2 separate regions of the Homo sapiens genome follow, and region 2 is linked to region 1. Evidence: fine-mapped QTL for protein levels in blood plasma. Region 1 holds a variant in brackets. A gene starts in the other region. All regions are shown on their forward strands.

Region 1 (8,487 bases):
AAGCCAAGGCAGGAGAATTTGTAGAATCCGGGAGACGGAGGTTGCAGTGAGCCGAGATCTCACCATTGCACTGCAGCCAGGGTGACAGAGTAAACTCATGGACAGACTCTTACTCTAAGAGTAAACTCTGTCTCAAAAAAAAAAAAAAAAAAAAAGAGAAAGATTACAGTCTTTGGTATCAAGCAGAGCTGGGTTTGAATTCTGGCTCTGCCCCCTCCTAGCTGTGTGACTATGGCGAGTCACTTCACCTTTCTGAACCTCAGTTTCCTTGTGTCAGTGTGGAGAATAATAGTACCTACCTGGCGAGGTTGATGTCACAATTCACGGAAATAATTCAGGTAAAGCAGAGATCACAAATTGGCCGCTCATGGCAGCCTCCAGACAGTTTGGCATTCACAGTGTCTGAAAAAGTAAGCCAACGTTTAAAAACAAATTTAAAATATACTACAGTGGTGAAGTGTCAGGAATGACACAAGGATGCCTGCTGTTATGACTCCAATATTACATTAGTGGCCTGGCCAGAATAATAGAGCAAGAAAAAGAAATAAATAGTATCAGGATTGGAAAGGGTGAGATAATAGCAAGGGTGCTGAAATAATAGCAAGATCAATATATACAAATCTACTATGCTCCTATACTCCAGAAGCAATTAGAAAATGTAAAAAATTGGGACATTTGGGCCAGGCGTGGTGGCTTACACCTGTAATCCCAGAACTCTGGCAGGCTGAGGTGGGTGGATCATGAGGTCAGGAGATTGAGACCAACCTGGCCAACGTGGCAAAACCCTGTCTCTACTAAAAAATACAAAAAATTAGCCGAGCATGGTGGTGCGTGCCTGTAATCCCAGCTACTCAGGAGGCTGAGGCTGGAGAATCACTTGAACTGGGGAGGTGAAGGTTGCAGTGAGCTGAGATCATGCCACTGCACTCCAGCCTGGGCAACGGAGTGAGACTCTGTCTCAAAATAAATAAATAAATATATAAATAAACAAAAAAACTCATTTCCTCTGATAAGTTTTCCTTGGCCAATCTGTGTAACATAGCCCCACCTCCATCATTCTCGAATTCCTTACCCTATTTTATTTTTATACGTCACCCTTGACATTATATTAGACATTTGTTTATTGTCTGTTGTCCTCATTAGAAACAAAAGGTCCACAAAGGCATCGACTTTTGTCTGTTTTGTTCCTGAAGTATCTACAGTGCTTAGACCTTCCCAGGAATTGTTCAATCAATATTTGTCGAATGAATAAACAACAGCACTTTGAGAGAAGAAGGCTCACTTTACCCACCCGCTCCTCTCACCCCAGGGAGACCAGAGAATCTGTCATGTAGACCGAGATATGACTGACCCAGGGTCCTGGGAAGTAATGTCTGATATAAAAGGATATCTTCCTTTGTTCAAAGAGGGAGCAGAGAATATCTGGGCCAAATGACTAAGGCAGGTGGCTTGGAAGTCTCGACAGAGCAGGTGGAAGTCGACAGAGCAGGTGTCCCTGTGGCCCAGGGAACTGGTTGGACTAGTTTTGTCTCCTTTGGGGAGGAAGGAGTGGAGGTGGCAGCTACGGGTGCTCCCAACCCCCAAGGCTGCCAGCAAGTGACCCCCCCACACACAAGGCTTTCAGGGCCTGAAGGGTGGTGATCAGGGAGGTGAGCAGGCTCCATCTAAGGATTGGCAGTGACTTCTTACTAGCTGAGGGTGCCTCAGGTAGGCTTAGGCACAGAACCCAACTTTAGGGCCTTGCGTCCTTTGAAGAATCACAGAGAATAAACAGGCCCAGGGAGAGAAAAGGTCTTGTCCAAAGTCTCATCAAGGCAAGGCTGCTTCCCAGGCCACTGCTACCTCAGTCCACTTATTTATTGATTAAATATTTCTTGAGTACCTATGACGTGCCAAGCATAGTTCTTTGATGATACATCATGAGCAAAACAATCATTTGTGGAGATCCTTTGTGGAGGAAGCAGAAGATAAACAACAAAGTAAATAAGTAAGTTATAGATGTTAGGAGGTGACGAGGACTATAGAGAAGGAAAAAAAGTAGAGGTGAGTAGAGGTTTTGAGAGTTTGGAGGGTGCTGGTGTGTTTGAGGAAGAGTAGAGGGGCCAGTGTGATTGGAGTGAGGCACTGGAAAGGGGGAGGGCAAGGAGGTGACAGGAAAATCATGACATCATGTAGGGACTTGAGGGACATTGAAAGGACTTTGGGTTTTACTTGAGGGACGTGGAGAGCCATTGGAGGATTGTGAGCATTCAGTGACTGGATCCGACATACATATGTATGTCCAGTGTCAAAACATATATATGTGTGTGTGTGTACATATATGTATATATATATGTGTGTGTATATATATATGTCAGATGTCAAAAAAATATATATATATAATTTTTTTTTTCCTGAGACAGAGTCTCTCTCTGTCACCCAGGCTGGAGTGCAGTGGCGTGATCTCAGCTCACTGCAACCTCCAACTCCCAGATTCAAGCGATTCTCGTGCCCCTGCCTCCTGAGACTACAGGTGCATGCCACCATGCCCAGCTAATTTTTGTATTTTTAGTAAAGATAGGGTTTCACCATGTTACCCAGGCTGGTCTTGAACTCCTGGCCTCAAGTGATCCGCCTGCCTCGGCCTCCCAAAATGCTGGGATTATAGGGATGAGCCACTGTGCCCAGCCAAACACATATTTTTTAAAGGATACCTCTGCTTACCATGTAGAGAATGAGCTGGAAGGAATAAAGATGGAGACAGGAAGGCCAATGAGGAAGAGTATTAGGTTCCTCTTGCTTCTGTAATAAAGAATCAGAAACTTAGTGGCTTAAACCAACACAGATCTTATCACTCTGGAGGTCAGAAGTCTGATATGGTTCCCACTGGACTAAAATCAAGTGTTGGCAGGGCTTTGTCCTTCCGGAGGCTCTAGGGGAGAATCTGTTCCATTGTCTTTTCCGGTTTCTAGAAGCCACCTGCATTCCTTGGCTTGTGGCACCTTTCTCCATTCAAAGGCAGAAGGGCAGCATCCTGCCAGTCTCTGACTCTGAAACCTCTTGCTTCTGTTTTGTGATTACATTGAGGCCAGCTGGATAATCCACAATAAGCTCATCATTTCAAACTCCTTAACACTTCTACAAAGTCCATTTAAGGTGAGATTCTGGGGATGAGGACATGGACGTCTTTGAAGGACCATTATCCTGCCCACCAGGAGGCTACTGCAATAGTGCAGGCAAGAGATGATGGTGGCTTTGACCAGAGTAACCGCAATGAAGATGGTAAGAAATGATAGCTTTCTGGATATATTTTGATGATAGAGCCAACAGGATATTCTAAGGGATTGGATGTGGACTTTTCCTTCCTCGTGCAGGTAGACTTCTAGTCTACCTGTGCCTTGGGCCTGCGCCTGGGTGAGGATGAGGGTTTCCCTGGGGTAAAGTCCAGGGAGTCACAGTCATTGACTGGAGCCTGTGTGGCCGTCTAGGGCCTGCTGCATGGCCTGCATGTGGTCAGACAAATGGGTATGGAGTAGGCCCTGTAACCCACCATTAGCACAAGTGTAGGGTCCTTTCTGGTCAACAGTTTCACCCACCTCCCCCTCACTCCTCACTTAACCCCTCAAGTTCTGCTGGGTTGGGCCTTTCCTGCCCCCATCGCTTACTTTGCCCCACTCCCCTGGGAGGTGAGACCTGCTCCCAGGCCCACCACACTTTATTTATTTACCTGTTTGTAGGTGTGAGTGTCTCTCTGTTCATTCATTATTTGCATGTAGGCAGAATAGCACAGTGGCTAAACTGGTTGCCTTTACAGTAAGAATCCCAGCTCTGCCTCCTACAAGTGTGTGATCTTAGGCAAGCTGTCCAACCTCTGTTAATGTATAAAATGGGAACAATAAAGCCTACCTCATATAGTTGTTGTGTGGGCTAAATGAGGTAATGCATGTAAAATCCTCGGCTCAGTGTCTGGCTTAGCATAAAGTGCTGATGAAGATTCTCTGTTATTTTCTCACGGTTCAAGTGCCAACCAGTCCACTCAATAATGGTGTGATCTTCGGCAAGTTATTCAACCTCTCCAAGCTTCTGTTTCCTCAGCTGTAAT[C/T]TGTAACTACCTCATAGAACTATAGTTGGATGATTAAATGAGATAATCTGGCTGGGCGTGATGGCTGACACCTGTAATCCCAGCACTTTGAGAGGCCAAGGGGGGAGAATCAGTTGAGTCCAGCGGTTTAGGACCAGCTTGGGCAACATAGGGAGACCCTGTCTCTACAAAAGATACAAAAATTAGCTGGGTGTGGTGGCACACACCTGTGGTCACAGCTACTCGGGAGGCTGAGGTGGGAGGATCGCTTGAGCCTGGGAGGCAGAGGTTGCAGTGAGCCATGATCGTGCCACTGCACTCCAGCCTGGGTGACAGAGTGAGACCCTGTCTCAAAAAATAAAATAAAATAAAAATAAGTAAATAAATGAGATATTCTATGTAAGCTGTCAGAGTGAGAGCTCCGTGGATGTTAATGATTATTATTCCTGTTGTTATTATTTCATAAATATCTGTTGAATACATACTCTGTGCTAAGGCCTTTGTCTGTGTTGTCACTGAATCATCAGAATGGCCTGGTGAGGAATATAGTGTTATTTCTGTTTCACAGACAGGAAAACCAAGGCAGGTAAAGCACATGGCTGAATGGCAGAGCCCCAATTCTAATCTAGGTCTGTGTGGTAGGCACCAAAACATGTTCCCTCTTCATTACTTCAACGCACTTTTAAAAATTGAGATAAGGGGCCGGGCGCAGTGGCTCACGCCTGTAATCCCAGCACTTTGGGAGGTTGAGGTGGGCAGATCATGAGGTCAGGAGTTTGAGACCAGCCTGGCCAACATGGTGAAACCTGTCTGTACTAAAAATACAAAAATTAGCTGGGCGTGGTGGCGCATGCCTGTAATCTCAGCTACTCAGGAGGCTGAGGCAGGAGAACTGCTTGAACCGGGACCCGGGAGGCGGAGGTTGCAGTGAGCCGAGATCGTGCCATTGCACTCCAGCCTGGGCAACAAGAGTGAAACTCTGTCTCAAAAAAAAAAAAAAAAAAAAATTGAGATAAGGCCGGGCGTGGTGTTTGTAGCCTGTAATCCAAAACTTTGGGAGGCCAAGGTAGGCGGATCTCCTGAGGTCAGGAGTTCGAGACCAGCCTGGCCAAAATGGGGAAACCCTGTCTCCACTGAAAATACAAAAATTAGCCAGGTGTAGTGGTGGGCACTTGAAACTGGGTGGTAGAGGTTGCTGTGAGCCGAGATTGTGCCACTGCACTCCAGCCTGGGCAACAAAGCGAGACTCTTTGTCTCAAACAATAAAAATAAAAATTGAGATAAAATTCACATGACATAAAATTCACCATTTTGGTCGGGTGCGGTGGCTGATGCCTGTAATCCCAGGACTTTGGGATGCTGAGGCGGGCGGATCACCTGAGGTCAGGAGTTTGAGACCACCCTGGCCAACATAGGGAAACCCCATCTCTACTAAAAATGCAAAAAATTAGCCAGGTGTGGTGGCAATACCTGTAATCTCAGCTACTCAGGAGGCTGAGGCAGGATAATTGCTTGAACCTGGGAGGCAGAGGTTGCAGTGAGCCAAGATTGCACCACTCCACTCCAGCCTGGGCAACAGAGTGAGACTCCATCTACCAAAAAAAAAAAAAAAAAAACCTCACCATTTTAACTAAAGTATACAATGCAGCTCTTTTTTATTACATTCACAATATTGTGTAACCATCGCCACAATCTAGTTACATAACATTTTCGTCATCCCAAAAAGAAACCCTGTACCCATTAAGCAGTCATTCTCCTTTTTCCCCCTCTCTGGACCCTGGCAACCACTAATCTGCTTTCTATCTCTATGGATTTGACTATTTTGGACATTTCATATAGGGTCAGCCTGGGTGACAGGGTCTCACTTTGTCACCCAGGCTGGAGTAGAGTGATGAAATCACAGCTCACTGCAGCCTCGAACTCCTGGGCTCAAGTGATCCTTCCACCTTAGCCTCCTGAGTAACTGAGACTACAGGCACACACCACCATGCCCGGCTAATTTTATTTATTATTATTATTATTTTGTATAGCTGGGGTGTCACTATGTTACCTAGGCTGGTCTTGAACTCCTGGGCTCCTGCGATCCTCCTGCCTTGGCCTCCCAACGTGCTGGGATTACAGGCATGAGCCACAGGGCCTGGCCTCATTCCTTTGCATTTGGATACCCAGCTGTCTTAGCACCATTTGTTGAAAAGACTATGCTTCCCCCATTTAATGGTCTTAGCACACTTGTTGAAAATCAATTGACTATAGATGTATAGGTTTATTTTTGTACTCTTGACTCTATTCAATTGATCGATAAACTTCTTTATTGTAGCTTTGCAGTAAGTTTTGAAATCAGGACATGCGAATCTTTCAACTTTATTTTTCTTTTTGAATATTGTTTTGACTATTCAGGGTCTCTTGCGATTCCATATGAGGTGTGGGATAAACTTGTCCATTTCTGCAAAAAATGCAGCTCAGATTTTGAAAGACTTGTATTGAATCTGTTGAGCAATTTGGAGAGTGTTGCTGTCTTAACAATTAAGTCTTCTAATCCATGGACATGGAATGTGTTTCCATTTATTTATGTCTTCCTTGATTTCTTTCAACAAGGTTTGGTACTTTTCAGAGGACAAGCCTTTCCTTTCCGTGGTTAAATTTATTGCTAAATGTTTTATTATTTTTGATGCTATTGTAAATGGAAATGATTCTTAATATCATTTTCATATTGCTCGTTGCTAATGTACAGAAATACAACTGATTTTTGTGTGTTGATATTGTTGAACTTTGCTGAACTCATTTTAGTTCTAATAGCTTTCTGTGTATTCTTTAGGTTTTTCTCTATATGAGATCATGTCATCTACAAATAGAAATAGTTTTACCTCTGCTTTTCCAATCTGGATGCCTTTTATTTATTTTTCTTGCTTAATTGCCCTGGCAAGAACTTTCAGTACAATGTTGATTGGAAGTGATGAGAGTAGGCATCCTTATCTTATTCCTGATCTTAGGGGGAAAGCTTTCGGCCTTTGTCTTCACCATTAAGTGTGATGTTAGCTGTGGGTTTTGCACAGATGCCTTTTACCAGGTTGAGAAGTTCTCTCCTCTTCCTAGTTGGCTGAGTGTTTCAGGTTTTGTTTTTTTGTTTGTTTGTTTTTTGTTTAATCAGGAGAGAATGTTGGATGAACTCTTTTTTACAACTAAAAATCAGCGAAGTCCTCTGTATTTAATTTGGTATAATTATGTGAGACCAAGTTTCATAATTAAGGTTTTATTTCATAATTTTTTTGATTTTTTGGGACAGAGTTTCACTCTTGTTGCCCAGACTGGAGTGTGATGGTGTGATCTCGGCTCACCGCAACCTCCGCCTCCCAGGTTCAAGCAATTCTCCTGCCTCAGCCTCCCGAGTAGCTGGGATTACAGGCATGCACCACCACGCCTGGCTAATTTTGTATTTTTAGTAGAGATGGGGTTTCTCCATGTTGAGGCTGGTCTCAAACTCCTGTCGTCAGGTGATCCGCCCATCTCGGCCTCCCAAAGTGCTGGGATTACAGGCGTGAGCCACCGTGCCCGGCCTCATTTCATAATTAATGTTTTCAAAGAAGGTTACAAATATATGGCTGGGTATCTTTAACCATGTGACTTTAGTCAATTCCTACTTCTTTGGGCCTCAGTTTCCTCAACTGTAAAATGGAGGTGGATAGTAATGCTTACTTCATGGGGCTTAGAGGGATGATGGAGATAAGATGGGATTTTTGTGTGCAAAGGCACTTTGCAAATAAAAACTATTCTTCTGTTGCTGCTCTTATTAGAGATACTTTGTGTGTGTATTTTTGTTGTTGTTGTTCGTTTCTTTTTTGAGACAGGGTCTCCCTCTGTTGCCCAGGCTGGAGTGCATTGGCGTCATCATAGCTCACTGTAGCTTTGAACTCCTGGGCCCAAGCAATTTTTCCACCTCAGCTTCCCAAGTAGCCCAGACTACAGGCTTGCACCACCATGCCTGGCTAATTTTTAAATTTTTTTCTAGAGAAGAGATCTCACTATGTTGCCCAGGATGGTGTTGAACTGTGGCCTCAAGCAATCCTCCCACCTTGGTTTCCCAAAGTGCTGAGATTACAGGCATGAGCTGCCATGCCCAGCTAGAGATGTTATTTATTTATTTATTTATTTATTTACTTATTTACTTATTTTTGAGATGGAGTCTTGCTATGTCGCCCCGGCTGGAGTGCAGTGGCATGATCTCGGCTCACTGCAACCTCCACTTCCTGGGTTCAAGTGATTCTCCTGCCTCAGCCTCCTGAGTGGCTGGGATTACAGGTGTGCACCACCATGCTTGGCTCATTTTCGCATTTTTTAAGTAGACTTGGGGTTTCACCATGTTGGCCAGGCTGGTCTCGAACTCCTGAGCTCAAGTGATCCATCCACCTCGGCCTCTCAAAGTGCTAGGA
Region 2 (8,487 bases), not on the chromosome of region 1:
CAGCAGAGCAAGACCCTATCTCAAATTTTTAAAAAGGCAAAACATTTTGAGATCATAGGAACCTATGGGCTGTAAGTTGCACCAAGGTGGGGACCCTATCTGTATTGCTCCCCACTGAGTTCATAGTTGACACATTTGCTTGAAGTAGAAATGAATAATGAATTAGTAGAAAGAAACAGGCAGGTTGCTGACGGTCTCTGTCTTGGCACCTACTTTGAGTGTGGGAGTGAAAAGAAATAAAAAGTCTTTTAAAACATTGCCATCCACACAGATGTAATAATAATGAATAGCATAAAAGCTATAGTTACTGAGCGCTTTCTATAATATTTGTAAGAGCCGCTACTGAGGGCTTCACATGATTGGCTCATTTACAAAGGGTATAATTACAAATACTATAATGTCCATGGGCCAAAATATTTAATTCTTCGCAAGTGTGGGAAACTGAGGTAAGAGAAGAGAAGTAGGCTAGGCTGAAGGTTTTGGAGTCTACAAATCCTGATCTCTGAGTTCAAATCCCAGCTCTACCACTTCGTGGCTGTGAGCCTTTGGGCAAGAAAGTCTCCTCTCTGAGCCTCACTTTGCTTATCTGTAAAAATAGGAATAATAAACATCTCCCTAGCATGTTTTACCACTCCTATCAGCCAGTGAAAACCCTGACTGCTTCCTCAATGAGAATAATAGGTTGGTGCAAAAGTAAATGTGGTTTTTCCCATCAAAAGTAACGCCAAAACCCATGATTACTTTTGCACCAACCTAATACATGGTGCAGGGACCAAGTGTTGGGAACAGGCCCCCAAAATCTGGCCATAAACTGGCCCCAAAACTGGCCATAAGCAAAATCTCTGCAGCACTGTGACATGTTTGTGATGGCCATGATACCCACGCTGGAAGTTTGTGGGTTTACCAGAATGAGGGCAAGGAACACCTGGCCCGCCCATGGTGGAAAATCACTTAAAGGCGTTCTTAAACCACAAACAATAACATGAGCAATCTGTGCCTTAAGGATATGCTCCTGCTGCAGATAACTAGCCAGACCCATCCCTTTATTTCAGCCCATCCCTTTGTTTCCCATAAGGAATACTTTTAGTTAATCTATAATCTATAGAAACAATGCTTATCACTGGCTTGCTGTTAATAAATACATGGGTAAATCTCTGTTCGAGGCTCTCAGCTCTGAAGGCTATGAGACCCCTGATTTCCCATTCCACATCTCCATATTTCTGTGTGTGTGTCTTTAATTCCTCTAGCGCCACTGGTTAGGGTCTCCCTGACCGAGCTGGTCTTGGCACCAAGGACCTCATTTCTTATGGGGAAATTGAGGCCTGGAGAAGAAAAACTTCACTAAATTCCCAGAGCTCAGTAGGAAGCTTTATAGTTTAAAAGTTAAGAACGTTTATCTTGAAGTCAGACTGATGTAAGTTCAAGCACTGGTCCTACCACTTCCTGGCTGTGTGACCTCGAACAAGTTACTTAAGCTCTATGAGCCTTAGCTTCCTTATCTGTATTAGGGGACATTAATAATACCTACTTCAAAGATAGTTGTGAGGATTGAATTAATGGAACCAGACAGTTTCAGGGCTTAATCCATAAAGCCTAGTCCTACTACTCACTAGCTGTGCAAATTTGGGCAAGTGGCTTAGTCTCTCTGAGCCTCAATTTTCTCTTTTATAAAATGGAATGATCAATAAATACAATACTTACATCTTGAGTTTGTTGGGAGGATTAAAAAAAGATGAGTATGGACAGTGCCTGACTCATGTCAAGCTCTGATACAATCGAAATGTTAGGAATTCTTTCTTATTTATAAGGACACAGCCAGGTCTTGAATCCATTCATTTACTCAACAAATATTAACTGAGGTCTATTATGGGCTGACCTGTGTCCATAAAAGATATTCCAAAGTCCTAACCCCCAGTACCTCAGAATGTGACCTTCTATTTGGAAATAGGGTCTTTACAGAAGGAACCAATTTGAAACAAAGTCATCAGGGTGAAGTTGCCTAGTGAAGTCACCTAAGCCAACATGACTGGTATCCTTATAGGCACAGAAATTTAGACATAGAATCAGCCATGCACTAAGGGAAGATGATGTGAAGATACAGGGAGAAGACAGTCACGTGATTAAAGTGATGCACCTCCCATCCAAGGAACATGAACAATTACCGGCAAACACAAAGGGCTGGGAGAGACAAGGAAGGACCCTCACCTAGAACCCCTGGAGCAGGCATGGCCCTGCTGACAGCTTGATGTCAGGCTTCCAGCCTCCAGAATTACACAACAATAAACTTCTGGGGTTTTTTGGGGGACATTTTTGTGGTAAAATACTGCATAGCATAAAATTAACCATTTTAACCATTTTTAAGAGTACAGTTCAGTGGCATTGTTATGGGACCATCACCACTATCCATCCCCAGCTTTTCCATCATCCCAAACAGAAACTCTGTACCCATTAAACAATAACTCCCCATTCCCCGCTCCTCCCAGCCCCCAGTAACCTCTATTCTACTTCCAGTCTCCATGAATTTGCCTACCCTAGGTAACTTATGTAAGTGGAATCATACAATATTTGTCCTTTTGTGTCTGGTTTATTTCACTTTGCATAACATTTTCAAACCTCATCATGTTGGAGTCAGAATTTCCTTTCTTTTTAAGGCTGAATAATATTCCATTGTATGGATAGACCACATAGTGTTTATCCATTCATCCGTTGATGGACATTTGGGTGGTTTCCATCTTTCGGCTATTGTGAATAATGCTGCTATGAACATGGGTGTGTAAATATCTCTTCAATTCCCTGCTTTCAATTCTTTGGGGCACGTGCACAGAAGTGGAATGGCTGGCTCATATGGTAATTCTATGTTGGATTTTTTTTTTTTTTTTGAGACAGCCACACTGTTTTCCGTAGTGGCAACACCATTTTACATTCCCAATTTCTGTTGTTTTTAAGCCACTTAGTTTGTGACACTTTATTACAGCAGCCCTGGGATTTATTTTATGTTATTTATTTATTTATTTTCTTTGAGACAGAGTTTTGCTCTTGTTGCCTAGGTTGGAGTGCAATGCCATGATCTTGGCTCACTGCATCCTCTGCCTCGTGGGTTCAAGTGATTCTCCTGCCTCAGCCTCCCGAGTAGCTGGGATTACAGGCATGTGCCACCATGCCCGGCTAATTTTGTATTTTTAGTAGAGACGGGGTTTCTCCATGTTGCTCAGGCAGGTCTCGAGCTCCCAACCTCAGGTGATCCGCCTGGCTTGGCTTCCCAAAGTGCTGGGATTACAGGCGTGAGCCGCTGTGCCCGGCCAGCCCTGGGATTTTAAAACAAGTACCTACTATGCGTCAGGCACTGGGCTCTGGAGATACCATGGTAAACCAGGGGGACAACTTCTTTGCTTTTGTGGTGCTTATCTTCTCATTGGAAAGACAGAAAATAAATGAGTAACAGAATGTTGGGTAGTGATGAGTGCTGCAAAAGGAAAAGCCCAGCTAGGGGGCTGGGGCATGTGTGTGTAGTGTGTGTGCATGCGTGTGCATGCATATGTGCATTAAGAAAATGAGAGACAGGGGAAAGCAGGTATACTTGACCCAGTCTCCAAGCCTCAGATTGGATCAAGACACAGCCTGGGCTGCAAGGAAGGTGTGTGCACTAAAGAAACATGAGTAAAGGCCGGGCGCGGTGGCTCACGCCTGTAATCCCAGCACTTTGGGAGGCCGAGACGGGCGGATAATGAGGTCAGGAGATCGAGACCATCCTGGCTAACACAGTGAAACACCGTCTCTACTAAAAATACAAAAAATTAGCCGGGCGTGTTGGCGGGCGCCTGTAGTCCCAGCTACTAGGGAGGCTGAAGGAGGAGAATGGTGTGAACACGGGAGGCAGAGCTTGCAGTGAGCTGAGATCGTGCCACTGCACTCCAGCCTGGGCGACAGAGCGAGACTCCATCTCAAAAAAAAAAAAAATAGAAAAGAAATGTGAGTAAAGGCTGGGCACCCATGTGGCAGCGATGGGGCCAGTGGTAGGGATCTAAGAGCAACTCACTCTAGGACAGTGGTTAAGAAACAGGCCGGGTGCAGTGGCTCATGCCTGGAATCCCAGCACTTTAGGAGGCCAAGGTGGATGGATTGCCTGAGCTCAGGAGTTTGAGACCACCCTGGGCAACATGTCAAAACCCTGTCTCTAACAAGATACAGCAAAAAAAAGAATTTAGCTGGACCTGGTGGCGCACACCTGTAGTCCCAGCTACTGGTGAGGCTGAGGCAGGAGAATCGCTTGAACCTGGGAGGCAGAGGTTGCAGTGAGCCGAGATCACACCACTGCACTCCAGCCTGGGTGACAGAGTGAGATTCCATCTCAAAAGAAAGAAAGAGAAAGAAAGAAAGAGAGAGAGAGAGGGGGAGAGAGAGAGAGAGAGAGAGAGAGAGGGGAGAGAGAGAGAGAGAGAGAGAGAGAGAGAGAGAGAGAGAGAGAAGAAAGAAAGAAAGAAAGAAAGAAAGAAAGAAAGAAAGAAAGAAAGAAAGAAAGAAAGAGAAAGAAAGAAAGAAAGAAAAGAAAGAGAAACAGCCAGGGGCCTTGAGAATAAAATGCACTCTCCATAATTGGCCTCCCTGGCCCTGCAACATCAGGCCCTGCCCACCTTGGCCACCTGGCACAGGCCCTATTTGTCACATGTCATGCTTTAGCTTTGTTAACCTGTTTTCAGGTCTTCTTGAAATACACCATGCTGGTTCCTTGTATATGGACCCTTTCTGCTTGGAACTGTCCCCCCACCCTGTTCCCAGGCTTCCTCTTCTCCATCCCTGAGGGATGCGCTACCTCCCAGGAGCTTTTCTGAATGGCCTGGGCTGGCGTAGGTCCTCTTCCTGACACTCCCCTGGAACAGAGATTGTCACCAAGTGGATGCCCAACAAATATTTGTTGAATGAATAAATGGGTAGATGAATGAAGCCCAGACTCTGCCAAACCACCCTTCTTTACTTGTTCTTCCCCAGGCCCACTGAGATGTTCCTCTGTCTGCCATGCCTCACGGCCTGACTGACCGTACCAGTGAACCCAGCGTACCCCTGGCCCTGGCAGCCGGACGGCTGATGCATGCAAAGCGGGCATCTCCTTGCCCAGCCGCCTGACCGCCCTGGCGCGGCCGAATCTGAAAGCTAATGACATTATTGTGCAGAGACACAATGTCTGTGGGCATTTGCTGACCCGAGCTTTGGTGAGAGCTTAATCCAGCATTCTCACCCTGCTTTTCGCAGGAGCACAGCGGTCACTCATCTTGGCACCGGCACTTCTGGGGAAGGTATAAATGCCACCTCCCGCTGGCCGAGCTTCACGGCACTCGCAGGGGCTGGTGTCACTGGTAAGATTGCCTCTCTTGCTTGTCTTCCCTTCTTTCTCTCATCCTCACCCCTGTCCGCAAGCATGGGAGCACCCAGATTCTGACAAGTGACTTTGGGCAGAGACTTCAATGCTGTTAGCCTCAGTTTTCTTTTCTGGTAACTGGGAAGGGGGTTAAAAAGCCTTCTTTATTGTAAGGATTCAAGAGAAGTTAGGGGATCATCCAGCACAGTGCCTGGCACACAGTGGGCATTGGGGCAATGTTCTTTATTATTAATATTAAACAGACTATCAGCATCCTTGTTTCGCCAGTCGCTGAGGAGGAGAATGTAACTGAGGGTTTTGCAAGAATCAAACCAGTGACAGTTCAGCATTGTTTCTAGGTGGGTGAGTCAGTTTTCCTCCACATCTGCAATTAGGGGGCACCCACTCTGTGCCTAGCCTCTGGGAGTGCTAGGGGATAGGATGCAGCCACAGGTATGTGACAGGTCCCAGCAACAGGTGATTTCAATGCCACTAAAGCATGGTAGAAATGACTCTAATAATGCCACAATTGCTGCCATTTGCTGCATGCTGAGTGTGTTCTGGGACCACGGCCAAGTGCTTCCGGTTTTATACATTACATAATTGAATCCTCACAACCTGTTCACAGGTATTATTAGACATCATTACTGTCCCCATTTTATAGAACAGGAAGTTGAGGCATAGGGAGAGGATGAGACCTGCCCAGAGTCTCAATTCTGGCAGGCAGCAGAGACTGCTCCTGAACTGGACCAACTGAGCTTCTTCAGTCTGTGAACACTCAGGACTGGGAAGTGATATGGCAGGACCTCAGGCACTCTGACAAGCCCAGAGGGCTGGTTTCTTGCGGGAGAGCAGTAGATTTGGCTGCCAAGGTGCTTAACTGCATTTCTTCCTCCTGGGAAACATCCAGTATTGGCCTTTCATGTGGAAGGGGCTTCTGGAAGCTGGCGTTATCTCTGAAGAGGGAGGCCAGGCTTCCTCTCTTACCCCTGGGGAAACACAGCCTGGTTTGACCACCCCTTCTGCAGGAAGGGGGAAGAGGCTGACAATTTTCCAGGCTTTTCTGATGTTCTCACTAGCTAAGGCAGGTCTACCCTGCTGCCTGCCACAGTGCCTGGATTTCTACCGTCGCACCCATTTCTTCTCTTTCTTGTAATGTGGGTTCTGTATCAGATGATTTCACTAATGGGGGAGTAAAACCAGTGGCAGAGAAGAGAAATCTAGGTACCAGGATGGGGAGAGGAGTCCCAGGGAGAGGGTGGGAGAAGGAGCAGGGGAACAGGGAACTTTGTGAGTTCCTAAACTGGGCACCACCACACCACCAAATACAGCCAATGCATAGGTTTTGTTTGTTCCACACAATTTTATTTAAGAAATTACTGCATAAAGGCAGAAGTTCTGGGATTGACCATTCTATATTCTGTGTGGTATCCATTGTCTGGGGTTGAGTGTTGGGAACCCACTTTGGACCTCATTTAAGCTCTAGTTTATTACTGCTCTCTTTCTTTGAGTAGACCTCGTTTTTCCCTCCTCCTGCAGCTGGCCTGGATAGAAATAAATGAAGCTAAGGACAGAAGTTGAAGTAGCTGCTTACGGACCCCACAGCTCTGGGACAGTCTGAAACCAGGAGAAAAAGAGAATGTTTGGGGCCAGAGGGGAGTGGTCTCAAGGCCCCACAGAGTGAAAAAGCCAGTGGCCCCTCCAGGTCCTCACTGCTGCTTCCCATGTCTTCCAGGTCATTCCTGCACAGGACAGTCCACCATGGCCTCAGATCACCAGACCCAGGCGGGCAAGCCACAGTCCCTCAACCCCAAGGTGGGTACCTCTCAGAGGAGGGGGCATGCAATGCTCCTCCCCCAGACTTAGTTGCCCTTCTGTAAAATGGGCTTGGCATCTTTCTTCATGGGTACCCCCTCTCGACCCCTGCCCCTCTCTGGGACTCAGTCTCCTCTACCCACACAGTTGGAGCTGATACTGAAAGTCCCTCCCCAGCCCATAGCTGGCATGCTGGGATTCCCAGTACCAGCCTCTGGCTTTGGAGACTTCAGTTTCTCTCTCCCTTACCTGTTTTGCCACACCCTATTGTCTACAGGGCTCCCTGAAACTGGAGCAGACCCTCATTCTCAGTCAGAGATGGGATTAGTAGATGGAAGGTGGGTGTGAGTCCTGGCTCTGCACCTGCTGTGTGATCCGGGCCAATTATTTGATCCCTCTGAGCCTCAGTTCCATCTCTATAAAAGGAGGAGTCAGATTTATTGCACAGGGAAGTTGTGAGAGCCAAAGAAACCAGGCTCAGCCTAACACCCGGCCTGGGGTGCGCATCCACCTAACACCAGCAAATAATGCCGCCTTTGATTTCTCATCCACCTGTCCACCCAAGGGCGGCAGGATCTTATCCCAACGTCAGAGGCTTGTCACACCCAGTCTGCCCTCAAACCTCTATCTAGGCACGGCCACCTGACTGCCCTCCTGTGCCTCCCTGCTTTGGTAGCCCCGGGCACAGGTTCCTTCAGGAATGGCCCCTTTGTCTGACTCAGTGCCTCCTGGGCCAGGGAAGCCTGAGCAGATACAGCCCCTCACCTGCTCACCCCAATCTGTCCCTTTTAGGGCTTACTTTCCAGAAGAAGGACAGACAATAAATAAATGAATATATGATTTCCAGTAGTGAGAAGTGCTACAAACAATTGTAAACTAGGGGAAGGGGCTCCTGAGAGTCACAGTGGTTGTGTTAGCTCAGGTGGTCCAGGAGGGTCTCTCTGAGGAGCTGACTTTGAGCAGACACCTGGGTCAAGTGAGGAAGCGGCTATATGAAAATTGGGGGTGCCTTTGCCAGGCCGAGGTGGGAGGACTGTTTGAACCCAAAAGTTTGAGCCCAGCCTGGGCAACATAGTGAGATCCCATCTCCACAGAAAAATGAAAAATGGGGGTCAGGGTTGATGAGAGCATCCAGACAAAAGGAACAGCAGGCGCAAAGACTCCGAGGTGGGAATGAACTGGGTGAGTTTGGAAAAAAGCAAGAAGCTCTGTCCACTAGACCTATAATGTGAGCCACATAGGTAATGCAAAATGTTCTAGTAGCCACATCATAAAAAGTAAAAAGAAATAGGTGAAATTAATTTTCATATTACATTTTA

Alleles and levels. Alleles are on the strand shown, and positions count from the first base shown. The strength of an association depends on the size of the effect and on how common the allele is.
For the plasma level of the protein whose gene starts at base 5,324 in region 2, allele C in region 1 goes with a lower level than allele T (strong association).

Evidence for each region. PIP is the posterior inclusion probability: the model's chance that the variant is causal. The UK Biobank Pharma Proteomics Project read protein levels with antibody pairs (Olink). The fine-mapping took linkage between variants from a reference panel, not from the people measured, so its PIPs are less certain.
Region 2: CRYBB2 starts here. The variant in region 1 is fine-mapped to the plasma level of the CRYBB2 protein (UK Biobank, PIP 0.99).

The regions. Positions count from the first base shown.
Region 1 is chr20:33,795,215-33,803,701 of GRCh38, forward strand. ZNF341-AS1 (ZNF341 antisense RNA 1) reads right to left here. Exons shown (of 4, transcript NR_110623.1): 2 at 2,704-2,781; 3 at 300-402. Among named protein-coding and RNA genes, the nearest start is that of ZNF341-AS1, 12 kb to the right of the region's middle. The variant C/T (reference allele first, on the strand shown) is at 4,082.
Region 2 is chr22:25,214,316-25,222,802 of GRCh38, forward strand. It overlaps CRYBB2 (crystallin beta B2), which reads left to right and starts at 5,324. Exons shown (of 6, transcript NM_000496.3): 1 at 5,324-5,351; 2 at 7,089-7,168. The coding sequence starts at 7,115.